Regions from separate parts of the Homo sapiens genome. Here region 1 is linked to region 2. Evidence: fine-mapped expression QTL. A gene starts in region 2. The other region holds a variant in brackets. All regions are shown on one strand. Distances are between the middles of the regions. Region 1 has its middle 20 kb from the start of PDZD8. Region 2 holds the start of PDZD8 (PDZ domain containing 8).

Evidence for each region.
Region 1: its variant is fine-mapped to the expression of PDZD8 in whole blood (TOPMed, PIP above 0.99).

The regions. Positions count from the first base shown.
Region 1 is chr10:117,393,135-117,398,514 of GRCh38, forward strand. No RefSeq gene overlaps it. Among named protein-coding and RNA genes, the nearest start is that of PDZD8, 20 kb to the left of the region's middle. The variant A/AT (reference allele first, on the strand shown) is at 3,183.
Region 2 is chr10:117,372,749-117,378,128 of GRCh38, forward strand. It overlaps PDZD8 (PDZ domain containing 8), which reads right to left and starts at 2,692. Exons shown (of 5, transcript NM_173791.5): 1 at 1,608-2,692. The coding sequence starts at 2,479. RefSeq lists silencers at 2,183-2,362, 2,463-2,782 and an enhancer at 3,013-3,132.

The sequences.
Region 1 (5,380 bases), 20 kb after region 2:
TTGCCACAGGCAAGAAAGACTTAGAACCCATTTATGAGGAGATTAATGCCACAATTCCCTTATAGGGATCTTTGGAAGGACTGGCCTGGCCTGGGATATCCTTACAATGTAAGTATATATTCAACTCCTGAATGTGCCTAATGAAATCTGATCCTGTTATTCCCTGTCTCCTTCAGTCTTAAAACACTCTGATGGTTTCCCGTAGCTGTTAAGACAAAGATCACAATCATCAATGGGCCTGCAAGGTCTGACCTCCACCATCTGGTTCAGAGGTCTGAAAACTTTTTATTAAAAAAAAAAAATCTACTTTTTTTTTTCTTTTATCTTCTTTTTAAATTTTTTTTGAGACAGGATCTCATTCTGTTGCTCAGGTTTGGAGTGCAGTGGCGTGATCACAGCTCGCTGCAGCCTCGACCTCCCAGGCTCAAGTCATCCTCCCATCTCAGCCTCCTGAGTAGCTGGGACTACAGGCTCATGCCAACAAGCCCAGTTAATTTTTTTTTATTTTTAATTTTTCAGGAGAGATGAAGTCTCTCTATATTGCCCAGGCTGGTCTCAAACTCCTGAGCTCAAATGATCTTCCCACCTTGGCCTCGCAAAGTGCTAGGATTGCAGGTGTGAAACACTGCCCCTGGCTGCAAACTTTTTCTATAAAAGGCAGACAATACATTTTCTAGACAGCATTCTGAATTTCTTCCCACCTTTGTGGGTCATAATGTCTCTGTTGCAACTACTCAGCTCTATCATTGTAGCTGAATTCAGCCCATGGGCCATAATTTGTTGACCCCTGGTCAGGAATGGTCGGAACCTTTCATCCAAACACACATCCAGCCTCACTGGCCTTCTCTCAGAATCTTCGTATTCCCACCCATAGGCTCCCTCTCCTCATGGGGCCTCTATCCAAGCTATTTTCTCAGCTTGGCTATTCTCCCAAATCTGTGTATGGTTAACCTTACTTACCACCTGGATCCAATGACAGGTTTCCAGGGAAGTCTTCCCTGACACTCTGAGACTGGGCCAGATTCCCCTAGCACATACACACCTTCCTAGCATTCTCCATCTCTCCTGTATGGCATTCACCATGGTTGTAATTTTTAGGATTTTCATGTTGGTTTGCCCTCTGTCTTCCTACTACGTAGGGAACCCCATAATGATGAGGCACTGTCTTTTTTTTATTACCTAGCAGAGTGCTTAGTACATAATAGGAGCTCAATATATATGTGATTGAAGAAAGAAAGAGAGGGAGAAAAGAAAACAGGGAGAGAAAGAAGGAGAAAGAAAGATGGAGGGAGGGATAAAGAAGGAAAGAAGGAATCAGCCCTTTGAATTTACCTGTTCAATGACTGAGAATGAGAATTCAAAGTAATAAAAGTAAATGGAATATTTTTCTTACTCATCCATTGCTGAAATCAGAAGAACATGAAGAATTGGTAAAAACTGGCACTTCTCCCTACCCATTCAGACACTTGGTAGCTTTTGGTGCTTGGGTGACATCAGATCTCTAGTCAGACTGGAATCAGGAGGCCTTCTCCTTGCCACTCTTCCTCCCAGCACCTGGACCCTCCCAGTTGCGATCATGTGTCCAAGTTCCCCACAGGGATGCCCATCAAGGTCACCTCTCTCAAAGTGCCTTTTCCCAAAGTTACTCAGGCCTCCTGGGATCAAATCCCAGCTCCAGGACTTAGGGGTTGTGTGACCACGAGCCAGTCATGGAAACTCTCCAGGTTTCTGGTTCCTCTCCATAAAGTGGGGATACCATTAAAAAATGGGCAAAGGATATGAACTGACACTTCTCCAAAGAAGAGATACATGTAACCAATAAGCATATTAAAAATGCTCAACATCACCAATCATTAGAGAAATGCAAATCAAAACCACAGTGAGATACCATCTCATACCCGTCAGAATGGCAATTACTAAAAAGTCAAAAAAATAACAGATGCTGGTGAGGTTGTAGAGAAAAGGAAACGTTTATACACTGCTGATGGGAATGAAAATTAGTTCAGCCATTGTGGAAAGCAGTTTGGCGATTTCTCAAAGAACTTAGAACTACCATTCAACTCAGCAATCCCATTATTGGGTGTGTACCCAAAGGGATAGAAATTGTTCTACCACAAAGGCACAGGCATATGTATGTTCATCACAACACTATTCACAATGGCAAAGACATGGAATCAACCTAAATGCCCATCAATGGTAGTAGACTGGATAAAGAAAATGTGGTACATATATGCCATGGAATACTACATAGTCATAAAATAGATTAAGATCATGGAGCTGGAGGTCATTATCCTATGCGAATTAGTGCAGGAACAGAAAACCAAATACCATATGTACTCACATGTGGGAGATAAACTATCACAAGTGGGAGATAAAGATTGAGTACACATGGACACAATGAAGGTAACAATAGACAACACAGCCTACTTGAGGGTGGAGGGTGGGAGCAAGGTGAGGATAAAAAAACTACCTATGCTTATTCCCTGGGCAATATGCTACCTGGGTGATGAAATAATCTGTACACCAAACCCCTGTGACATGCAATTTACCTGTATAACAAACCTGCACATATACCCCAGAACCTAAAATAAAAGCTAAAAATAAATAAATAAATAAAGTGGGAATAATGACATAGGGTTATTGGGAGGATTTAATGGCATAATATGTAGAAAGTACTTAACACAGGGCCTGGCACATATTTAGTGTCAATAAGTTAGCTATTATTAGTTAAATTTTTAAAAAACTCTATCTGATCATCTGATTATAGCAGTCAGGCTCATCTTCAACATATGTGGGGCCAGGGCTAGAGTACAAATGGTCTAAATATTTAAAATTATAACTAAGTGGCATGCGTTGTAGTCCCAGCTATTTGGGAGACTGAGGCAGGAGGATTGCTTGAGCTAAGGAGCTTGAGGCCAGCCTTGGCAACATAGGAACCCTATCTCTATTAAAACAACAACAACAACAACAAAAATTAGCTGGGCCTGTTGGCTCATGCCTGTAGTTTTAGTTACTTGGGACACTGAAGTAGGAGGATTGCTTGGGCCCAGAAGTTTGAGGCTGCTATGATTGCACACCACTGCACTGCAGCCTGGGTAACAGTGAGACTCTGTCTCTAAAAAAAAAAATTAAAAAAAATAATAATAACAAAATAGAAAATTATAAATCAAGCTGCAAAATAC[A/AT]TTTTTTCTCCCCCTACATTGACAAATACGACTTCATAATGGAAATTTTCTTTTTAAGTTGGAAAACTATAGTTTTTATCTGACTGAAAGTCTACAAAATATCAAGAATAACTGAATTCAGGTATTACTGTGTACGTGCTATTGATGGCCCAGAAATATTTGAATGAGTGATAAAATAAAGACATATATCATGAGTCATTACATATTTCATAAATTTTTTTTCTTTCACAGCAAGAAAAAAACTAATTATCTAATTGCAATTAAAGTATGCAAATAATTTACATTCCATTGATATGATCCAAAAGATTAAAACATAAAATTATATTCAAAAAGTATCAAATTTTAATATATTTCCATCAAAAATGTAAAATGAAAGTAAATGTAATAGTTAAAGTTGAATATTTTTGAAAAAAATTTTTAAAGCATGAAAAATATTTACATTAAAAGGCAAAGTAGAGGGTCGGGCATGGTGGCTCATGCCTGTAATCCTAGCACTTTGGGAGGCTGAGGTGGGCGAATCTCAAGAGATTGAGACCATTCTGGCCAACATGGCGAAACCCTGCCACTACTAAAAATACAAAAATTAGCTGGGCGTGGTGGCGTGTGCCTGTAGTTGCAGCTACTCAGGAGCCTGAGGCAGGAGAATCACTTGAACCCAGGAGGCGGAGGTTGCAGTGAGCCAAGATCGTGCCACTGCATTCCAGCCTGGCTACAGAGTGAGACTCCATTTCCAAAAAAAAAAAAAGGGTTAGGCGAGGTGGCTCATGCCTGTAATCCCAGCACTTTGGGAGGCTGAGGCGGGCGATGGTTCACCTGATGTCAAGAGTCCAAAACCAGCCTGGCCAGCATGGTGAAACCCTGGCTCTACTAAAAATACAAAAATTAGCCAGGCATGGTGGCAGGTGCCTGTAATCCCAGCTAATTGGGAAGCTGAGGCAGGAGAATCTCTTGAACCCAGGAGGCGGAAGTTGCAGTGAGCCGAGATCGTGAGATTGCACTTCAGCCTGAGCAACAGAGCGAGACTCCGTCTCAAAAAAAAAAAAAAAAAAAAAAAAGGCAAAGTAGAAATTATAAATTAATGAGTGTAAAAATTATAGATGAAATTATTTCAGTAAAGTTACATTTTTTGTTTAAAATTTTAACAGTGGAGTTAAATCATAATAAATACTTTTACAAAAATAAACTATTCAGTATTCTAGCATTCACCGTTTTAACTTAGTTGCCAATACAAATAATCAGTACTACATGCACTTATTTCATGCCTAAAATTACAAATCATATCTTCAAGATGTCAATCATGACATTGGGTTATGGATAGTTGATACGTGATGGTTCTACTACAGCCTAACCACATGGTGACATTTTATTATGTGATTCGTGTAATTCATGAAGAGTTTAGGAACCACAAATGAAAGAAATAAAATGAAAAGAAAAGCTCAGCATGACAGGGAATGATACTATGCGAAACAAAAATCTGTTTTATTCATGCTCTCTGGGAGGAAGAAATTGACAAGTTAATTAATTTGCTTTTTCTCTTCCTAATGGTCCCTACCACTAAAATGCTCTCTGCCCTCTGAAGCTGTGTCCATCTCTGATGTTGGCAGCAGCAACCCAAAAACCTTTATGACCTTCAGGACAGGTAGCCTTTGTTTTGAGGATAAAAGGTAAGAAATATGGAAAAGTGTTCCCTAGGGCTTGAGCAGCGTTGGTGCCAGGAGCAGATGTTTAGGATTAGGGGTAGTGATATGCCAGTGCTGAGCACCAGGTCCCATGTGACAAAGGAACACACATGTTCTTTAAGAAGTGTGTATGTGTGTGTATTAGTCTGTTCTCATGCTTCTATAAGGAACTACCAAGAGGTCTAATTGACTCACAGTTCTGCAGGCTGTACAGGAAGCATGGCTGGAAGGCCTCAGGAACTTACCATCATAGCGGAAGGTGAAGCGGAAACAAGCATGTGTTACCATGGCCTAGCAGGAGACAGAAAGAATAAAGGGGAAGCGCTACACACTTTTAAAGCAACAAGATCTCATGAGAACTCATATACTATCATGAGAACAGCAAGGGGGAAGTCTGCCCCCATGATCCAATCACCTCCCACCAGACCCCTCCTCCAACATGTGGGGATTACAATTTGGCCTGCGATTTGGGTGGGGACACAGAGCCAAACCATATCAGTGTGTGTGTGATATTATGGG
Region 2 (5,380 bases):
TATGGAAATATTTCCATTACAAAGTAAATTTCTCCTGCCACGCAAGTTTTAAACTGTCACTCTGCGCTGTTAGCCTAAACAAAACATAATTGGTAAGGTACATCTGCCACATACAGAAGTCAATAATCCATTCCAAACCCAAAATATTTCTGGATTATCTTGCTCCTGAAAATTGACACTGGTAGAAAATTAGTGATCCAGAAATAGGCAACTTCCACTAAAAGGCAAGTAAAATTAGGTAAGTAAAATACAAGACTGACATAATTTTATAATAAAGGGCAAAATTTTAAAGGCTCAAATGTCTTAGTGAATACAAAATTAAAGGAGGACCGAAAGAGAAGTTAAAAATTCAGCTTTTTACAAAAGAAAAAGCACCTTCCACTCCACCTCTAGCCCTAAAAAAGTCTTTCCCCTTCCACTCCTACAATATTAAAACAAAATTTATATACTACTCAAAACTGTATACCACAAAATTTAAGCCATCAGATGCTGGAAGGCTTAAACAAAATTAAAATCACTACCTAGCATTAAAATACAATTTGTACAGTGACTTCAGGTCCCTTGAGAGAAGAACTTACAGTCACAGAGAGTAAATGCTTGATGGGCAGAGTCTGGATCTGTGTTCTACAATCTACCCAAAATGGGCAAATGACATTAATACAAAATGTAAAGTACACTATGTACAGGCTCCCAACTCCTTTCCCATCTGCTGTGGAAAGTATTCCCGGGCCGGGCGCGGTGGTTCACTCCTGTAATCCTAACACTTTGGGAGGCCGAGGCAGGCGGATTACTTGAGGTCAGGAGTTCGAAACCAGCCTGGCCAATACGGTGAAACTCCGTCTCTACTAAAAAATACAAAAAAAAAAAAAAAAAAAAAAAAAATCAGCAAGGCGTGGTGCCATACGCCTGTAACCCCAGCTACCTGGGAGGCTGAGGCAGGAGAATCGCTCGAACCTGGGAGGCAGAGGTTGCAGTAAGCCGAGATCGCGCCACTGTACTCCAGCCTGGGCGACACAGCAAGACTCTGTCTCAAAAACAAAAACAAAAAAAACCCACAAAAGTATTCCTTTGCAAGAGTTACCACCTCTGCCTTGAAAGGTGTCAAACCATCAAAGCAAAAGTGGCTTGCAATGTCAAATTAGCACAGACCTGGGCTATAAGCACACTCTTCACGCGTGTACTGTGTCCAGGAACAATTTCTCAAAGCGGCCAAGGGGATGCTGCAAAGCCAGTGACGCGGCTGCCCTCAATGCAGCAACCACATAGAGGGAGAGTTTCTCAACAGTCCCAGAAGCGACTCCTGGGGATTAGGGTAGGCTTCCCTTCCATTTCCAATATGCTGCTTATAAAAGGAGACGATTCTGCCCGCGTTGACAGCACCCTGAGTCCCCATGAACACGCGAAAAGGTTTCTAGCTCCTATCAATGCCGTTCGGAAGCAAAGCAAGTGTTCACGACTCGCCTTGATCTGGGGCCCTGTCCAGGGTGGGAAGGCCCCAGAAGCAGGCGCCAGGACAGAAATGAGCCTTTGCCCTTCCCAATCCACGCAGCGTCCCGCCCAGGCCCGGGTTCCCGGCAGCCAGGCCCCCTCCCCGACCTCCAGCTCACCTGATCTTGTAATTCGGTAGGGTGTGCTTGCGCTTGATGATCTTCTTGAGCTGGTTGACGATGATGGAGGTGAGCTGGGGCATGGGCCGCCCTTCAAACTGGGAGCGCACCTCGAAGTCGATCAGCGGGTCTTCCACGAAGGAGAAGAACCAGTGGGTGAAGGGCACGCGCGTAAAGACCAAGCGCAGCCTTCCCACCACGCGGGACAGCTTGACAAACAAGTAGGCGGACTTGCCGAAGACCAGGTCCACGTCGATGGCCAGGTGGAAGCCCCCGTTGTACTCCACCTCCGCCTCGAAGGCCAGCTCCTCGGGGCAGGCGGCGGGCAGCGCCTCCCCTTCAGGGCCATCGGGCTCCCCGGTGGCCGAGGGCACGACTGGCCGCACGAGCCGGATGGTCTTGATGAAGGGCACCGTCTCGCCCAGGAACACGTCCCGCAGGCTCAGCCCCTCCAGCAGGCGCCCGGCCGTCTTGGTCTGCAGCAGCTCCTCGAACTCCACCTTGATCTTCTTGGTGACCCAGCGGCGGGTCAGCGCGGTGTCCCGCAACTCCCGGAACAGGAATAGGATGGTGGCGTTGAGGAAGTAGCAAGTCTCCCGCGTCGGCGGGGCGGGGGTCTCGGGGGCCGCGGTGGGGGTCGCGCCGCCCTCAGGGGCCGCTCCGGAGGGCTCCTCATCCCGGCCGCCGCCATAAAGGTACTCCCTTAGGAGCAGGCCCGGCACTGGCTTGATGTAGCGGAAGCCCTCGCCCGCGCGGGCGGCCTCGTCCGCCGGCGGCTCGGGCTGTCTGCGGTACAGCAGGAAGAACTGGGCGAGGAGCGTGAGGAAGGAACCCAGCACGGCCGACGCCAGGATCATGAGCAGCAGCCCCATCCCGCCACCGCCTCCGCCCGGGCCCCTACTCCCGCGCCCACAGCGCCGCTTTCTTCACGCCGCCGCCCCCGCTGCCTCCATTTTGAGGACATCGGGCGGCTGGGTCGGGGCGAGCGGCTCCGTGGGCCTCGTCCAGGGGCTCGGGCCGGCGCGCTGCGGCGCCCGAGCCCGCAGCGGCCCGCGCCTCCTCAGACGCTCCCGAAGGGCCGGTGTGGCGGCGGCGGCAGCGGGGCCGGGACCGGCGCCTCCCTCAGGCCTCCACTCATTGGACGAGCAGCGCGTGACGTCAGAGGCGTGCTCGCTCCCGGCGGCGTCGCCCAGCAGTCGGCGCCCGGGCACGCGGACGCGGGTCCTCCTTTACTTCTCTGCGGCCCTTCCAACCTCGTCCCCCCACGCCAACATTCCAATCCCCGCGGCGCGCGCCGCCACCCACGTGGCCGTCACTTCTGGAGCTGCGGTCGGGATCTGGGAGGACGGCTGGGGACGCGGGCTGGAGGATAAGGCGGTCCGGCGGAGCGGGCCTGACGCGTTCCGGATGCCGGCCATCCCGTTATCCTCGGCTGCGCCCATCCCCCGTCTCTGGCCGCAGTCCCCGCGGTTACCTCTGCAGCGGCGTCGCTCATCCTGCGGTGTGCTTCTTCCACTCGCACCCGTGACAGCCCGGCTGGCAGCGGCGCTTTCCCTGCGGGCAGCACCGCAGACGATCCGAGCGGGCCTTTCGGACGCTTCCCAAGCCCACGGCGAGAGGGGACCGACTGCCTCAGAGGCAGCCATCGCGGACCTGCCGTCCCCCCGGCAGACGCTCTGCGTCCGCGGAGGGTGGGCCCTGGGAAGGAGGGACGCAGGGAAAGGGCGCGCCACGCGGAATGACTTTCCCACCGAGGTGGATCTTCGAAATTTCAGGGAGGAGGAAGTTGAAAGAACAGCCAGGAGGAGAGATGCATAGTGAAACGAGTTTGCCAAGTGATTGGAAGATTAATATGCGACCCGCTGTCAGTCTCTGGTTAAGCCGGTAGTCCATCTATGAGGCAGTTATTCACTGTTAGCCCCCACCCACTTGACAGATGCCAACACTGGTGCAGAGAGCGTGGGGAGGTTGCGTGGGGCCGCAGAGTGGAGCCTGGTTTATCTAACACTAAACCCTAATGTCTTGATCACTACTCTCTGCCCTAACACAGAAACTGCTTCAGTTGTAAGCAGGCCAGTGGGTTCCCTAATGTTCAGGAAGGGAGAATTGGGGAGGCGGATTAGGGAAGACGGCAAGGAATTTTGCATAGAGTAGCACCTTAACCAAAGCCACGAAGCTAAGCCAGGTTGCCCAGCAACAGCGTTACTCCTCCTGCCCTCTGACTACTTAGTGGTTACATCATAAATGCTTATCCCTCCAAGCACGTGGAGTTCCAGTCCTGCAGGAGTCAGATATCCCATACCTTAAAGGCCGATTCTGGCTGTACCTAAGGAGCCAGGGCAGGGCTCCTCTCTAGCCCTTGAAAACCTTCAAGCCGGCCGGGCGTGGTGGCTCACGCCTGTAATCCCAGCACTTTGGGAGGCCGAGGCGGGCAGATCACGAGGTCAAGAGATCGAGACCAGCCTGGCCAACATGGTGAAACCCGTCTATACTAAAAATACAAAAATTAACCGGTCGTGGTGGTGCGCGCCTGTAGTCCCAGCTACTCAGGAGGCTGAGGCAGGAGAATCACTTGAACCCGGTAGGCGGGGGTTGCAGTGAGCCAAGATCACGCCATTGCACCCCAGCCTGGGCGACAGTGCAAGACCCTGTCTCAAAAAAAAAAGAAGAAAACCTCCAAGCCAAGGATTCTCTTAACTGTAGGTGATTCTACCACAAAAATAGACCTGACCCAGCTGGGACAGGTACAGAACTTCGGAACCAGGCTTATCATGCCTTACCGAATCATGCCCAGATACGAAACCAGAATGGCTTTCATTACTATGAAGACATAAGATAGGTGTCTGCTGAGGAACCATGCTCAAACCATGGCCGAGATTTTTCGGAGATCTTGGCAACTTCTGTTCTCTGGTCCCCTTTGGTTCCTGGCCTCTGCTTCTGGGCTGCTCTCTGGGATCTACACTGTTTCAACTCAAATGAGAAATGTAGACCCTTCTATGATTTCCACCGTAAACCTATTCATAACATTCATGCACATTGCATATTATAAATGTTACAGAAGCTGGAAGTAGGGTGGCATGAAAGAAGTTATTCACATTCCTGAAATATAAAACCCTCAAACTGTATATTGATCCATCCCGAGTTGCAAAATATTCTTCACCCACCTCCCTCCTCAACAATGAAAGTTTGTGGTCTTCATGGGAATGAGTCCTCAGTCTTCATCTTGCAGACTCCTTTCTTTTCTCTTCTCCTCTCACTTCTGCGCTCCTCAGAATACCTGTGAGAATCTTAAATCTTCTCAGTTTGTTTTACAGAGTCAGAGTCATTGCATTCCCCAGCAAAACTTGACCCCTTAGGGACACACTTCAAATCCATGAAAGAGCTCAGCAAACCTTTTGGGAAGAAAAAAGTATTCTCCCTTGTGTGAAACATGACCAACATTGATTAAACACTAATAATAATAATACAGAGAACTGACCATGTGCCAAGCACAGTGTTAAGCATGTTATTTAGAAATATTTAAATATTTCAAACATTATTTAGAAATCAAAATATCATGAGTTTTTGTAAAGTCAAATATGCAGTCATGCACCATAGAAGGATGTTCTTGTTAACGACAGACTGCCTATAGGATGGTGGCCCCATAGGATTATAGTACCGTATTTTTACTATGCCATTTCTGTGTTTAGAGATGTTTTGATACACAGATACCATTGTGTTATGGTTGCCTACAGTATTCAGTACAGCAACGTGCTGTATAGATTTGTAGCCTA